Linked DNA regions of Homo sapiens. The protein of the gene in region 1 purifies or fractionates together with the protein of each later gene. This does not show direct contact. Each region holds a gene or a part of one and is shown in the gene's direction. Other genes may lie near its edges. The genes, in order: RHBDF1 and TNFRSF13B.

The links.
Region 2: the proteins of RHBDF1 (region 1) and TNFRSF13B purify together in Homo sapiens (co-immunoprecipitation; one large-scale study listed by IntAct). This does not show direct contact.

What each region holds. Positions count from the first base shown.
Region 1 is NC_000016.10:70,275-74,181, reverse strand, and holds the start of RHBDF1 (inactive rhomboid protein 1), read left to right. Parts: upstream 1-1,550; 5' UTR 1,551-1,669; intron 1,670-1,976; exon of another isoform or gene 1,977-2,518; coding exon of another isoform or gene 2,519-2,656; intron 2,657-3,907. UniProt on the Homo sapiens protein: Regulates ADAM17 protease, a sheddase of the epidermal growth factor (EGF) receptor ligands and TNF, thereby plays a role in sleep, cell survival, proliferation, migration and inflammation. Does not exhibit any protease activity on its own.
Region 2 is NC_000017.11:16,961,912-16,965,718, reverse strand, and holds part of TNFRSF13B (tumor necrosis factor receptor superfamily member 13B), read left to right. Parts: intron 1-3,807. UniProt on the Homo sapiens protein: Receptor for TNFSF13/APRIL and TNFSF13B/TALL1/BAFF/BLYS that binds both ligands with similar high affinity. Mediates calcineurin-dependent activation of NF-AT, as well as activation of NF-kappa-B and AP-1.

The sequences.
Region 1 (3,907 bases):
GTGGCACGTGCAGGCTATCGGAGCACTGAGTGTTGGCACTGGGGCAGGCTCCCTCTCACCCGGTGTCCGTGATGCACTGGCAGTCATCCCCTGGTGGAGTTACCCTCCACCCCCTCCAAAGCTTCCATTGTCTCCTTCTACATGAGAATTGTGTTGATATTGCTTGTGTTCAGAGAGCACCCATTATGTGCAGGCACCGCCCTATCCCGTGGCATGGACAAGGATATGGGCAGGGGAATCTTGCCCAGGCTCTGGGATCTACCGGTAAGTGTACCAGCACCTTTAGTTCAAATTCTCCCCTTTTCTGTCTAGCCAAGGAGCAGGCCATTGTCTGCGTCGGGCCCTCAAGTGCAACAGCTCAGTTTGGAGAGGGCTGGTGCCACCCAGACCCAGAGGATGGCACTGAAGCAGCAGCACCTTGTGACCAGCACAGGGCCTGAAGACACATTTGTCCGAGGCATGGGGGGGCACCCTGTAGAGGGGTCCTTAGGGACCCATGGGACGAAGGGATCCCTGCACCCTCTATCCAGAGGAAGCCTTGGCCACCCACCACTCAGAGCTCCTGGACAGCCCTGCCCGTACTCTGCTGTTGGCACCCCTGTCCCCCACCCTGGGAGGGTCAGCCCACCCAGTGTCAGGAGAGAAATGCTGGGAAACTCTCACCAGCAGCCCCAGCGGAAAGCAGAGTGCCATTTTGAGTCCAGCCCAGATTGTGCAGGGATATGAGCCCACCCCGGGGTGGCCGCTGAGCTCTGAGACAGTGAGAAGAGCCCAGAGTGGACACCAGACACTGCGCTGCCTCTGCTGAGTGGCTTCGGGTGGGGCCGGTGCAGCCTGGCCTGAGTGCCTGCTGGTGGAGCGGGGCTTCTGGGGGTAGGGGCACAGGGCAGGGGGAGGGGTAATGACTGTGGTCCTGAACTGAGTGTGTGCATCGGTGTGTACACGTGTGTGTGTGCACGTGTATGTACCCATGAAAGATGTACATGAGTAGGTGGGTGCATGTGAGCACGTGCATGTGCAGGCGAATGAACGCATGAAGTGGAAGGATGTGGGGACGTGTGTGTATGATTGTGAGTGATCGGTGCACATGAATGTGTGTGAGGGAATGTGAGTGCTTAGTGGGATTGGGTGAGTGTGGGATACAGGACTTGTCAGCGTGGGCCTCTGGAGGAGGTCGGGTTTAGGGGAGCCAGGGATACACACCCATCCTCCGCCCTTTACCCCGTGCCTGCTCTCCCTCCTCACCCTCTTCTCAGCACAAATCAGGGCAGGACAGCTCAAGCCTCAATCTGGAGCCAGGGAGAGGCGGAGCCGCCCAGCGCTGACACTGCGGTCCGCTCCCACCAGGTCCTCCGTCGGGCCGAGGCGCTGGAGACCCCAGCCCCAGGTGTCCCCGCAGGCGGACCCTGGGGAGAAGGGAGCCCGGCGGCCTTCCGGGAGGAGGTGACTTGGGCCGGGCAGGCGGGCGGCGCGCATTCCTGAGCTCTGAGTCAGCGCGACCGCCCCGCTCCGGCCGGGCCCGCCCCCGGGCGCACGCCCCTCGCTCCAGGGCATTCCCGGGCGGGCCGGACCGGCGGGCGGGCGGGGACTCGGCGCGGGCCCTCCCGGCCAGCGGCGGCAGCCTCCTCCCCGGCGCCCTCAGGACCCCCCAGAGCCCCCGGCGGCGGCAGTGAGTGAGCGCGGCCGGGAGCGCAGGGCTCCGGGGGCGGGCGGGTTCCGGGGCTGCGTCCGGAGGGCGGGGCGAGTCCTCAGCACCCGGGGCCGGAGCTGCTCAGAGCGGCCGGGGCCGTGTCGGGGCCGGGGCCGGGGCCGGGGAGGGGTCGCGGCGAGGCCCCCCCGGGGCGGCCGGGCTTTTCTTCCTGGAGTTTCCCGAGTCGCCCGCGGAGGCGGCCCAGCCCCGGATTCCTAGCCCGGCGCGCCGCAAAAATAGCCCGTGGCCGGATTAGCAGCCCCAGCGGCCTGGCCGGGCGGGACAGCTCGGCTCCAGCCCCCGCCCAACAGCTGAGGGTCCCAGGAGCGGGAGTCTAGAGTCCGGGGGTGCCCCAGGTTCCTCTGAACTCCCCCCGCTGCATTTTCCTTCCCGGCCACGACCGGCGGGTGGTGTCTCCGAGCTGAAACTCCAGCCCAGGGCGGGATGGTCCCTGTCCCGGCTGCCCTCACCGATGGGAATAGCAGGAGCCGTGGAGCTGGGGGTGGGGGACTGACTCCGCCTTCTGCCCCACGACACTGACTCCCCCATCTGTACACTTCGAAGCTCCAGGGTGGGCTGGGAGCGACTCCCGAAGACAGACTCTCACTCTGTGCGCAGAGGCCAACGGGGACAGGCCTTCTCCCGGCTGGGGTGACAGCCAGACCCCAGATGCTCAGGGCATTGGCAGAGGGCCTGGTTGTCTGTCATGCTGGGGGCATGTTTGTGGGGCTGGGCGGGGAATGGGCAGGGGATCTTCCCTGGCCCCCCAGGGCCTGCTTCCGACCGAGGTGGTCCTGACCAGAGTTTCTTCTGTGTGTGCCGCTTGAGATGGTGAATGTGTGTGTCTGTCCCGGTGGGTGGGGCCTAGGTCTGGAGGCCCTTCTCCTATCCTGGGAACTCCCACCCGCCAACGGGACTTCCTGTTGGAGACCGGGAGAAGATTCAAGGATGAAACTGGCTTTTCAGGTTTGACCCAGCTAGATGCCTGGGCAGTCCCAGGCTCGGTTCTCCTCACCCCTGTGGAGCTAACCCCAACCTCCTAGCCCCGACCCCAAGGGTGGGCAGAAGCTGGGGACCAAGCAGCTGGCTGGGGCTCAAGGGGTCCCTGAGGCGGAGCCCCCTGCCACCAGGGGTCATTCTGGGCAAGCCGGGCCCCTTTTCCTGAGAATGGGGCAGGGGCAAATGGAGTGCATGGGAGTCTGGTGGTGCCAGATTGAAGGGGCCTCAGACCCTTTCCCAGCCCTTCCAAGTAGCTTTCACTGGCTGGGTGGCCTCCGTTGCACAAGCAGGCCCCTCAACCAGCACCCCTCATGAGCTGGCCGGTCCCCACCTTGGGGAGCTGACTTTCTAGGGTGCGCTCTTGGTTTAGGGGGAGTCGTCCAGGTCTCCCCTGCCTTTCAGGGACCATCAGGCCCTCCCCTAGGATCTTCCCAGCTACAGTCCCTGCCCAGGGCACCCCCAGTTGCTCTTGGCTGTGAGGGCCTCCGCCACACCGGCTCCAGTTCCCCCACCTCAGTGTCTGTGCCAGGATCACATTTTGCCCAGTGATTGGATTCCTTGGCTTCTGCCTTTTTTTCTGAGTTGGACGATTTTGGGGGTGAGTCCTTCCTTCTTCAACTGAGATGCCCCTGATGGAGCAGGTGGCAAGGGGTCTTAGAAGGGTCTGACAGCCGTCCACAGCCACAAGGCTGAAGAACCCAGGTGGTCTGCCTTGTCTTCTGGGGGTCTGCAGACAGGGTCCCTTCCACTGCAGCTCCTGGGCAGACCTGGCCCAAGGCTTTGAGCTCCCTTATAGGCCCTGGGACCTTAGGCAGTGATGGGCTTCTCTGAGCCTCAGTTTCCTTATCTGTAAGATGGATACAGAGGACCCCTCCCAGGGGTTAGACAGACCAGTGTGATCAGTCAGGATCTGGTTTGAGGAAGCTGAGCCAGGCTGCTGAGGACCGAAGCCATTTCTGCTCTGACTTGGTTTCCCTCCTGTGGCCTCTCTAGTCCTATCCTGCTTCTGGTGGGTCCTGGGAGGGGGTTGCAGGGTTGCTGAGCCCAAGGGTGCCTGGGCACCTGGGTGCATGTGTGTAGGGTCAGTCAGGGACACCTCTGGAGGGCTCTGACTGGTGACTGGGCTGCCCATCTGTCCTCTGGCCAGACGTGTGCAGGGGATGTGGGCCTCTCCCACCTGCAGCCTGGGGAGGGTGTTTTCGCCTAACTCCTGAGACC
Region 2 (3,807 bases), on another chromosome or scaffold:
TCCTCTCTCCCAAGTGTTGAAAGCAACACCCAGGACTTTCACCTTTCCCCACCAGGCCACCTCTCCCTGCATCCTCCCTGGATGGAGGAGATGCAGGCAGGGAGGGAGCTGCTGCTGAAACTCAGTATGATCCCTGCCCAGCTGTCTATCAGCACAGTGCAAGAATGCGGCTTGCTTTTCCTTCCGCAAGTCTTTACTGAGTACAACTATATCCAGCTACTGATTAGCATTTATCCAGCACCTGCTGTGTGCCTGCTATCTTGGAAGGCACTGGATTCAGAGACAAATGAGACAGTACGGGGAGGCAGAATGGCTATACCCTGAAATGTCACATTACCAACAAGAAATGTCACCCAGCAGTGGGTTCTGGGAGTTCAGGTTCTGGGGGTAGTTCCCCCAGCCCAGAGCACTAATTTGATGCTACTATCATTATTAATGATTATCATTGGCTGGGCACAGGGGCTCACAGCTGTTGTCTTAGCTAATTGGGAAGCTGAGGGGAAAGAATCACTTGAACCCAGGAGTTCAAGGCTGCAGTGAGCTATGATTGCACCACTGTAATTTTGTAGAGACAGAGCAAGACCCTGTCTCTACAAAAGAAAATGTTAATTATCACTAATATTAAAATTATTTTACATTATTATAAATTATTATAAAATGATAACTATTAACCCATTATATTTCATACTATTTATATCACTACTGGTAGTTATTATACCAGTAGCAGCAGCCATGTCTTGGGCCAGTTACATGCTTGTCATGTACACACCCTTGAGAAGATCTACAAAAGAAAGTCTAGAGTGTCCATTTTACAGGTCAGGAAAACTGAGGTTGTGCACAGCCAGAGTCCTTCCCAAGATGACTCAGCCGTGCTTTCCCCACCACGGGCACTTCACTCCGGCACACTCTGGGTCACTGAACCATGGCGAATCCGTTTTCAACATGAGCTGGCAGGAGGTGAAAATTATGATGGGTAGAAGTGGCTGTCCCCATTTCACAAACAGAAAACTGAGAAGGTGACTTGACCAGTTTTCCCAGGACCTAACTAAGTTCTTCTTCCTTTAGAACCAGCATGGGAGGCCGGGCGTGGTGGCTCACGCCTGTAATCCCAGCACTTTGGGAGGCTGAGGCAGGCAGATCACCTGAGGTCAGGGGTTCGAGATCAGCCTGACCAACATGGAGAAACCTCATCTACTAAAAATACAAAAATTAGCCGGGTGTAGGGGCACACACCTGTAATCCCAGCTACTTGGGAGGCTGAGGCAGAAGAATTGCTTGAACTCGGAAGGCAGAGGTTGCAGTGAGCCGAGATCTCACCACTGCACTCCAGCCTGGGGAACAAGAGTGAAACTCCATCTCAAAAAAAAAAAAAAAAAAAAAAGGCATGGAGATGGTGGACTCTCAACCTTGAACATCTCTGAAGGTTCATTCTGAGTGGAGGTGGGAGCAGGCAGGGGGGTCTTAGAGCCATTTTCAGTATTTCAAAATAGCCCGGGGAAAAAGCATATACAGCTCACAGAAACCAAAAGCCATCTTTTCCTCCTCCTCCTTCCTTCTCTCCTTCTCTTCCCTGTCTTCCTCATCTCTCTTCTTTTTCCCTTCTTCTCCTCTTCTGCCTCCTCTTCCTCATCCTTCTTTTCCTCCTCCATTTCTTCCTCCTTCTCCTTCCCAGTTAGCAGAAGCCAGGTTGTAAGGTCACCATCCATTCCCATGCACATCCCTCAGGTCTCAGGCTGCAGCCTTATCGGGGCACACACCCTATCTCTGCACGCTGGAATCCTCTCCTGCCCCTACCCCACTGGTGAGCTCAACTCATAGCCCCCAGCCCAAGTTTGCAGTCAGTGTTTGCTTGAAAGACTGGATGAGAAAGGCCGGGCTCTGTGGCTCACGCCTGTAATCCCAGCACTTTGGGAGGCCGAGGCGGGTGGATCAGGAGGTCAGGAGATCGAGACCATCCTGGCTAACACGGTGAAACCCTGTCTCTACTAAAAATACAAAAAAATTAGCCAGGCGTGGTGGTGGGCACCTGTAGTGCCAGCTACTCTGGAGGCTGAGGCAGGAGAATGACGTGAACCCAGGAGGTGGAGCTTGCAGTGAGCCGAGATGGTGCCACTGCACTCCAGCCTGGGTGGCAGTGCCAGACTCCGTCTCGAAAAAACCAAAAAAACAAAAACAAAAACAAAAACAAAACTTGATAAGAAATTCCTCCTATCTGCCAAGCTTTTACTGTTCCTTCTCTTTCAGTCACATCTACAGGTTTTCTTGGTGAAATTGTAAAGGGCAAGAATGAGGAGCCCACCCATCGCCCCAACCCTGCTCCTTCACTCCTGCACAGACACCTCCCCACCAAGGAGGAAAAGAGGGAGTTGGCTCACGCCAACAGGAATTGGCCCCTAAAATTTTTGTTGTCTCGATCCAGGTGTAGGCCTTGTCCAGCACAGCACTCCTTATCATAAGAAATGGCAATATTAATAAGGGCAGCAGCTCAGGGGGTTGTCTTTACTAACGTGCTCAATACCATACTAGGCACCTGCCATGCATATGCTGCTCACAGTGATTCTGTGAGTAAGCAACAGCATCCTCATCTTACAGGGGAGGACGCTGGGTGTCCAAGAGCAGAAGTCGTGCCCAAGGTCACACAGCAAGGAGTACCAGCCCCATGACTCACAGCCCAGGGTTCCAAGCAGGGCTGCCCTGTGGCTTTCCCCAGGCTCATCCCCAAAGTGGCTCAGAATCTGGTCCACTCCCCCTGCTGGTCCTTGACTTGTCCATTTTAGACGCTCTGGATTGATTCCCCACTTTCTAAGGTGAGAACTTAACTTGGACGTCACTATCTGCATGCATGCAGCTTCCCCTCCCCCGGCCCCCGGTGAAGGAGGGGTGCGTTTTCAGTTGGAGTCAAGATAGACCTGCTGGCTGCCGGCTCTGCTCCAGAATGTCAACTCCTCTGCAGTTTTGTTCTTCCCCTTCTCCTTGCTCTCTCCTAGAAAGCCTGTTTTTGCCTTTGCTCACTGACAATGGTCTAATGGCTCTCACAGTGAGTAAACTCTTTTACAGAAGGAATAATTCCACATCTCCACCTTATTTGTTGACTCAGATGGCTCATTTATTTATGACAATATAAATATTGCCCACAGCTGAGCTGCTGTACATGTCCTATGATTACCTTTCTTTTCCTTTCTTTTTTTTTTCTTTCTTTTTTTTTGGGGGGGGAGACCGAGTCTCACTCTGTGGCCCAGGCTGGAGTGCAGTGGCACAATCTTAGCTCGCTGCAACCTCTGTCTCCTGGTTTCAAGTGATTCTCCTGCCTCAGCTTCTCAAGTAGCTGAGATTACAGGCATGCACCACCACACCCAGCTAATTTTTGTATTTTCAGTGAAGACAGGGTTTCACCATATTGGCCAGGCTGGTCTCGAACTCCTGACCTCAAATGATCCACCTGCCTTGGTCTCCCAAAGTGATTGGAGAACAGGCATGAGCCACCACACCTGGCCTACCTTTCTTTTCTCAGTAATGTCTTTTGTTTCCCTGGAGTTGGTAACTCCTCTGTTTTCCATGCAGGTAATTCATCTCCAGCTCTGGGACAAATCCACCCTGTCAGTTGGTCAGACATCCTCACTTATCACTTCTGTATTTTCACTGGTGACATTTACCCTTCTTCCATTTTAGCTGGGATAGAGTACCCTCTAGACCTTCAAGCAGCTGTCACTGGGGAAGTCCTTCACCATCATGCTGAGAATGTCCATCTTCCTCTCTGCTGACAGGGGTCCTGTTCTACCCGTGGTTTTTTTGGCCACTCCCCAGATT